2 linked regions of the Homo sapiens genome follow. The protein of the gene in region 2 interacts with the protein of the main gene of each other region in a pairwise test. Each region holds a gene or a part of one and is shown on either strand. Other genes may lie near its edges.

Evidence for each region. The genes of interacting proteins can lie anywhere in the genome.
Region 1: the proteins of DCBLD2 (region 2) and MALL interact in binary tests that used the Homo sapiens proteins (3 or more experiments, as listed by UniProt).

What each region holds. Positions count from the first base shown.
Region 1 is NC_000002.12:110,105,823-110,109,322, reverse strand, and holds part of MALL (MAL-like protein), read left to right. Parts: intron 1-3,500.
Region 2 is NC_000003.12:98,794,342-98,798,989, forward strand, and holds the end of DCBLD2 (discoidin, CUB and LCCL domain-containing protein 2 precursor), read right to left. Parts: 3' UTR 1,600-4,648; downstream 1-1,599.

The sequences.
Region 1 (3,500 bases), on a different chromosome or scaffold from region 2:
CTTATGTGTTAGGTGAGTCTCCTGAAGGCAGCAGAGGGTTGGTGAGTTCTTATCCATTCTGTGGTTTTGTGTCTTTTAAGTGGATCATTTAGGCCATTTACATTCAATGTTAGTATTGGAATGTGAGGTACCATTGCATTCATCATGCTCTTTGTTGCCTGTCTACTTTGGTTATGTTTTTGCTTTTTAATTTGTATTTTTGTTTTATAGGTCCTTTGTGATTTATGCTTTAAAGAGGTTCTGTTTTGATGTGTTTCCAGGATTTGTTTCAAGATTTAGAGCTTCTTTTAGCAGTTGTTGTAGTGGTGTTTTGGTAATGGCAAATTCTCTCAGCATTTGTTTGTCTGAAAACGACTATATCCTTCCTCCATATATGATGCTTAGTTTTGCTAGATATGAAATTCTTGGCTGATAATTGTTTTGTTTGAGGAGGCTGAAGATAGGTCCGCAGTCTCTTCTAGGTTGTAGGGTTTCTGCTGAGAAATCTGCTGCTAATCTGATAGCTTTTCCTTTATAGATTACCTGGTGCTTTTGTCTCACAGCTCTTAAGAGCCTTTTCTTCGTCTTAACTTTGGATAACCTGATGACAATGTGCCTAGGCAAAGATCTTTTTGTGATGAATTTCCCAGGTGTTCTTTGTGCTTCTTATATTTGGCTGTCTAGGTCTCTCACAAGGTCAGGAAAGTTTTCCTTGATCATTCCTCCAAATATGTTTTCCAGGCTTTTAGAATTCTCTTCTTCCTCAGGTACGCCAGTTATTCTTAGGCTTGGTCGTTTAACATAAACCCAGACTTCTTGGAGGCTTTGCTCATATTTTCTTTTTTTTTTTCTTTGTCTTTGTTGGATTGGGTTAATAATTCAAAGACCTTGTCTTTGAGCTCTGAATTTCTTTCTTCCACTTGTTAAATTCAATTGCTGAGATTTCCCAGAGTATTTCACATTTCTAAAAGTGTGTCCAAAGTTTCCTGAATTTTTGACTGTTTTTTCTTTAAGCTATCTATTTCCATGAATATTTCTCCCTTCACTTCTTGTATCATTTTTTGGACTTCCTTTGCATTGGGCTTCACATTTTTCTGGTCCCTCCCTGATTAGCTTAATAACTAATCTCTTGAATTCTTTTTCAGGTGAATCAGGGATTTCTTCTTGGTTTGGATCCATTACTGGTGAACTAGTGTGATTTTGGGGGGTATTGAAGATCCTTGTTTCGTCATATTACCAGGGCTGGTTTTCTGGTTCCTTCTCATTTGCATAGGCTCTGTCAGAGTGAAGGTCTAGGGCTGAAGGCTGTTCAGATTCTTTTGTCCTACAGGGTGTTCCCCTGATGTAGTATTCTTCCCCTTTTCCTATGGATGTGGCTTCCTGTGAGCCAAACTGCAGTGATTGTTGTCTCTCTTCTGGATCTAGCCACCCAGCGAATTTACCTGGCTCTGGGCTGGTACTCTGGATTGTCTGCACAGAGTACTGTCATGTGGAATGTCTATGGGTCTCTCAGCCATGGATATCAGTGCCTGTTCTGGTGGAGGTGGCAGAGGGTGCAGTGGACTCTGTGAGGGTCTTTAGCTTTGGTGGTTTAATGGTCTATTTTTGTGCTGGTTGGCCCCCTGCCAGGAGGTGACACTTTCCAAAAAGCAGCAGCTGTAGTAGTATGGAGAGGGACCAGTGTTGGGTGGAGCCCTAGAACTCCCAAGATTATATGCCCTTTGTCTTCCACCAGAGTGGATAGGGAAGGACCATCAGATAGGGGCAGGGCTAGGCATGTATGAGCTCAGACTCTCCTTGGGTGGGTCTTGCTGTTGCTGCTGTGAGGGGTAAAGGTGAGATTCCCAAGTTACTGGAGTTGTGCACTTAGGAAGATTATGGCTGCTTCTGCTGGGTCATGCAGGTTGTCAGGGAAGTGGGGGAAAGCTGGCAGTTACAGGCCTCACCCAGCTCCCACACAAACCAAATGGCCAGTCTCACTCCCTCTGTGTACCCCCCAGCAGCCCCAAGTCTGTTTCTAGGTGGAGGGCAAGATGGGTTTGAAAACTTGCCCCAGGCTATCCTCCTCCCCAGCTTCCCCCGGTGGCTGCATCTTTCCTAACAGTAGTACAGTATCAGAGCCCAGAAGCTGCCCTTGGTACTTGGGGGCTCCACTTTTCTCACATGTGTAGATTCAGGGAATCACCACTGCATCAAGGCACAGGACTGCCACTCACCACAAAGAGCTCCCTCGTGCTACCCTTTCAGGGTGCACCCCCTACCCTGCCCTCCCTCACCCCCTCCTGAACAAACCCCTGAAAACCACAAATTTCATTCCTACAATTTTGTTATTTCCAGAAAGTTATATAAATACATGAAATCACACAGTATATGGGTCTTTGAGGTTGGCTTCTTCCACTCAGCCTAATGCTCTTGAGCACCATCCAAGCTGTGGCCTATGTCAATAGCTCCTTCCTTCTTACTGCTAAGTAGCGTTCCGTGGTCTGGCTTTGCCGTCATTTGTTTAACCATCCACCTATTGAGAAACAGTTTGCCTGTTTCCAGTTCTTGGCCGTTCCAAATAAAGCTGCTGTGAAAACTTGTGTGCAGGCTTTTGTGTGGGGGTAATGCTCAGTTCTCCAGGGAAAATGCCCCCGTATGATTGCTGGGTGGTGTAGTAAGTGTACGCTTTATTAAGAAACTGACAAACTATTTTCCAGAGTGGCTGGAGAATAACTTCTGTGTTTTACATCCCCACTAGTGATTGATGAAACTTTATCAGTAAAGTTCATGTTTTATGTAGTTTACTGGTGAATTTAGATTTCTTATTTAAAGACAATATTAATTTTGAAACATAATCTCCAAGTGCAAAAAAGGTTTGAATGGGTGAATTTTAAGATGAGAACAGACATCCATTTATTTTCTCTCTCCTTCATGTAGCAAGTGTGTGTGCCTTGGGGGAGCCTGGGGTGGGTGCGGCTCACACCCGTGCCCTGCTCTGGAGCCAGCTGTCTGCGGGTGCTGGGGGCTGACCATGCCATTACCTGTATGATACGAGGTGACTCATCAGCTTTTTTATAAGCTGAATTTTATAAGCCGAAGGGTGGAAGCTGCAAGCTCACCCAGGGTGACTGTGAACAAGGAAATGCTTTATGACTATGACTCCAATAAATTATTTTAACTGTCAACCTTGTCACTAGTTGACTTATGAGATTTTTGACTAGTTTAAAACAAACAGCTAAGATTTCTAGAGGTTCAGAAAGTTAAAAGCGGAGACCATGCAAACTCTTTGTTTGATGTTAGATGTTTTCCTTTCAGCTGCTTAACTCACCAGCACATTAGTCAGAGATAAATCCTCTGAGCCCTTAGAAGTTCATCCTGAGCTCTTCCAGTTCGGCAAGTTCATTGTATGTCTTACCCAAATGGCCAGTACCACCTTCATTCCAACCTGCTGCTGCTTCTACTCTGTTTATATGGAAGAGCCTGTCTGAAGCTCACTGAAGCCAGGGGCTTCCCGGGAGCCCCCTAGGGCCAACTCTCTG
Region 2 (4,648 bases):
TAAAGTTCTTATTAGATAAGTAAATAACTAAAGAAAGAATACAATTACTAAACTCTGATGGCTTTGTATTATTTTAAAGAAATGAAGTTTAACTTTATACAGTGAAGCTAAGCTAGGCAAGCTCAAGAAGGAAAAAAAAATCTTGAACATTATTTTTTTTTGCCTGACTTACTTATTCATTAAATTTTGAAGGTTTTCCACTTGAAGTAAATTAGGAAAGGTAAAGAAGATAACAGAACAAGTAAACACTTAAGAAAAGTCAAGCTGAGGCCGGGCAGGGTGGCTCACACCTGTAATCCTAACAAACACTTTGGGAGGCCGAGGGAGGCAGCTGGATTGCCTGAACTCAGGAGTTCAAGACCAGCCTGGCCAACATGGTGAAACCTCATCTCTACTAAAATACAAAATAATTAGCTGGGCGTGGTGGTATGCGCTGTAGTCCCAGGTACTCGGGAGGCTGAGGCACGAGAATTGCTTGAGCCCGGGAGGCAGAGGTTGCAGTGAGCCAAGATCGCGCCACTGCACTTCAGCCTGGGTGACAGAGTGAGGCTGTCTTCTAAAAAATATAAAAAGTGAAGTTGGGATTTTTGGATTTAAATGGTACAAAAAGAATATCTCATTTTCCCATGATTAAAGCTAATCTTCAGATGGAAAGCTTGCCTGGCTACCTAGGGTGCACCAGAGAATCTGATCCAATGCAAGCCAGTCAATCCTACAAATGTGGTGAGCTAGTCTTCCTTCCTATATTTTAATAAATGTAACCAAAGGCCATCTGGAGGTAGGGGAATGAGAGGTGAAGAAACAGAAAAATAGAGGTTATAAGGATGGAACTAAAAGTTGTCAGAAGAGGTATGAGCTGAAGAAAGAATTACTCTCTTTTGACCAATAAATACAATTGGGAAACACTGGAAAACCATGGCTTGATTACTGACAACCAACCTGCCTCTCTAAAGAGGGTGTATAAAGGGTGAAATACATTAGATTTGGCTCAGAAACAGAATGCGGTACTTATAAAGCAGAATAAAGGGGAGAACAGTAGTAGTTGATCTAACCCAGATTAGACATGAATACCAGCATATGTTTGCAGAGTCCCACAGTTTTGATTCCTCTTATAACTTTTTGAGGTGCAAAAGGAAGGTACCAGAACTGGAATCACATGTAATCAATCAGTGTGATTTTCCCCTCATACCACACAGCCATAGGCTGCAGTGTGGCTGCTGAAGTTCAATTGATATAAAGTAAATCAGGCTTCAAAAAGAATGGTGCTGTGGGTACACAAGGACATAAAGATGGGAACGATAGACACTGAGGACTGCGGCGGGGGGAGCGAGGGGAGCGGGGAGGGCAAGGGCTGAAAGACTATGTATTGGGTACTATGCTCACAACCTGGATGATGGGATCATTCATACCACAAACCTCAGTATCACACAATATACCCATGTAACAACCTGCACTCTGCACATGTACCCTTAGAATCTAAAATAAAAGTTGAAATTATTTTTTTAAAAAAAGGATGGCGCTGGTCATAGAAAAAGTCAAAGTAAACTAACAGTGTCATTTTCAAATGTTGCTGGAAGCACAATATTGGCCATAAATTAGTGAGGTTAAAATAGAAGAATCTGGCATTTTATAGTATAAGGAAAAGCTACAAACCTCAAGGTTGTTTTATTTAAACCAAATAATCTGAGCAAGACATATATACATTAAAAACAAATGAACACATTAAAATTTCACTATTTTACAATCTAAATTCTAGCAACATATACAAATACTGAGTGACTACAGTACATGCCGAGGTAAGATAAGTACATTCTGGGAGAATATCACTGACGCTCAAACCATTTTTATTTCCAATATGTATTTCAATACATGTTTGTTTCCACTTTTCCCAGTGCCACACACACACACACAAAAACAAAACAAAACAAAAAAAAACAGTCACAAGTTGGATTACATTAGAATTGGTGCCACAGTTGACTTTAAAAGCATTTTAATAACCACCCAACTCTTAGATTTTGCAGTTTAGGGACTTCAAGTTCAGAACCAAAAAGCAGAGAATCGTTTCATGTGACATGATGTTTCTATAGACCTCTTGCTCTCTAGGTGACAATGCAGAGCCAGGGCAAAGGTGTTTAAGCTTTGTCACCTTCCACAGCTTTGTGGCCACATTCATATTTAGATAAGCTCGGACTCTGCTCCCCTCTTCTGGAGATGGGGAGAGGCAAGTGTGTATGTGTTGTCATACTTACTGCATTAATTCTTCACTCGAACCGTTTACATCAGCGAATAAACCCATTGTTCAATGCAAAGTGCAAACAGTGAAACATGAACTTAAATAAACTGGACTAGACCCATCACATCCAACAGGATCTATTTAGATTTACAGCATTTAATAAAGTATAAGTCAGAATTCACAATATCTTAAACTGTGCTGTTTCCTAAGATCAAGTAACAGCCAAGTCAGTGTAATTTTATGAAACCTGTAATGGCCACATTTGTTGTGTCTCCGATGTATTTCTATAATTGCATTAACAGGAAAAAACTTAATCCAATATACCAGTGACTTTGAGTCTTAAATGTTGCAAGCAAAGGATAAAAATTCAAGGGAATTTTGTCAGATATGGTTACTTTCACATTTTCAGTTGTTACTTGATTGTCTCCAAAGCCGTATATGTATCAGACATATAAATGTAGTAAAAAAAAAAAAAAAAAAAATAGAAAACCTCTACTATAAAAACCAATGAACTAAAAAGAAGTATAAAGCAGAAAAACCATTTGAATCAGGCTCAGCTCTTCATCTGGAAAGTAAAGTTTATATAAAAGTAGTAAAAACTAGATATTTTATAAAAATTATTGGTAGTTCAAGGATAGCACAGTGGCAATATGAATCGAGTCTTAAAATATGCATCATTTCAGAAAACACTTGCCCCTCTTAAAAAAAAAAAAACCCAAAACTAAACAACAACAACAAAAACCTCCAGGAAAAAACAATCAGGTATACACAATTAACACAAGAATAGCAAACTTCTTTGGGAAAATGAAATAGTTACCAAAAACATCTCTCTTAAAGCTTCAAACAGGTATATTACTTGAGGAAAAGTATATTCTCTGTGTACTAAGGATGAATTAAAAAATCAACTGGTTTGCTCTCTTCCCACCTGAAAAGGGATGACTGCATTAATATATGTGCTTTCCACATCCATATATGTTTTAATAAAAGTCTACCATCTATGTCTTTTGTTTCAAACATTTTGAAACAAAATATGTATTGATTCTTCAATGAATGAAATCACGCCTCAAAGTTTGGAGAAGGAAAAGCCAGTGAAAATAAGGCCAAAAAACCATACCACAAAAGGACAGGAAGCCTGCAGAAATAAACAGTTCTCTTTCTGAAGCGATGTTTTAGAATACTGATATAATTCATGGAAACAAGAAAACAAATACTGTTCATCTTTATTCAAATTGAGTGAATTCTGGCAACATCATAATCTGGTGGCTCAGGCCAACAGAAGTGACTAGAACTTTATGGAAAAGTACTGTTCAACATTAAATCTACAAACAAAGGTTTATGGAAGAGGGAATGTCAAATTTATGTATTTTTATCATATGGTGAGCTGCTCATGTCGTCTTGACAGTCTGAAGGCTTTAAAAGATGGTTTTACATTGTTAGCTAATAAATTACAGATGATTTCTATTTTGCCATGTCTAAAACTAGCTCTGGGCAGGTATGAACAAGTGGTGACATGGAAGCTGCCAGGAGGTATCAAAAACAAGGCATGAATATTCATTTGCTAGTAAGCTATAATGTCTGTTCCCTAGGTGACATATAGGACTACTCAAACCTCTTACCACACAAAGTGCACGATCACGCAGTCCTGAAAAATACACGTTAGGTTTATATTTTGTGTAACAGTTTATGGAAAACTGAAATGAAAAATTATTTTTTCTGACTAAAAATATAAAATACCTTGAGACTCAAGAAAAATGTATATGTTTGTGAATGTATAAAACCAAAAAGGACAAATTCTGGTTACTTTTTAAAGAGGTAATTTATATTACTTCTGAGTGAATAATTTTGCCTTTCACTGTGATAAATATAAGTGGGTCATGTTTACAGTATTCCCTTAGAAGCCTTCAACTTTTCATAACTCTCCTAGGAAAAATCCCATTGCAAATAAAGTTGGGGGTGGGAGAAGAATCTCCTTTAAAGCTTTCAAATCATAAAGTTGTTCCTGTTTACACATTGAGGAGCATACTTAAAGGACATGAAGGGATCTGAATTCATGAGACTAAGGCAAGCATCACTCATCAGAAATACTCAAACATTTTATAAACACAAGAATGGGGCAAGACACCAAAGGGCCTCAAGTGGAACACGCAAGGATGAGACCAGGCCATATACTGTGAAGCATTAAAGCTCTAAAGAGTGTCACAAAGTGAAAAAGCAATCCCCCTGCTCATTACAAGTCAGAAAATCCCAGCTACAGATCTTAAGATGGATAAGTGGATATGGCTGCAATAAAAACAATGCTTATATCACTAATTATTAAAAAAAATCCAGAAAAGAATATAGGAATAGAAGAGGAAATCATGATAGTACCCATCTTTCACAAACAGACTAGAATTTCAAGCCATTAGGTATTTCAAG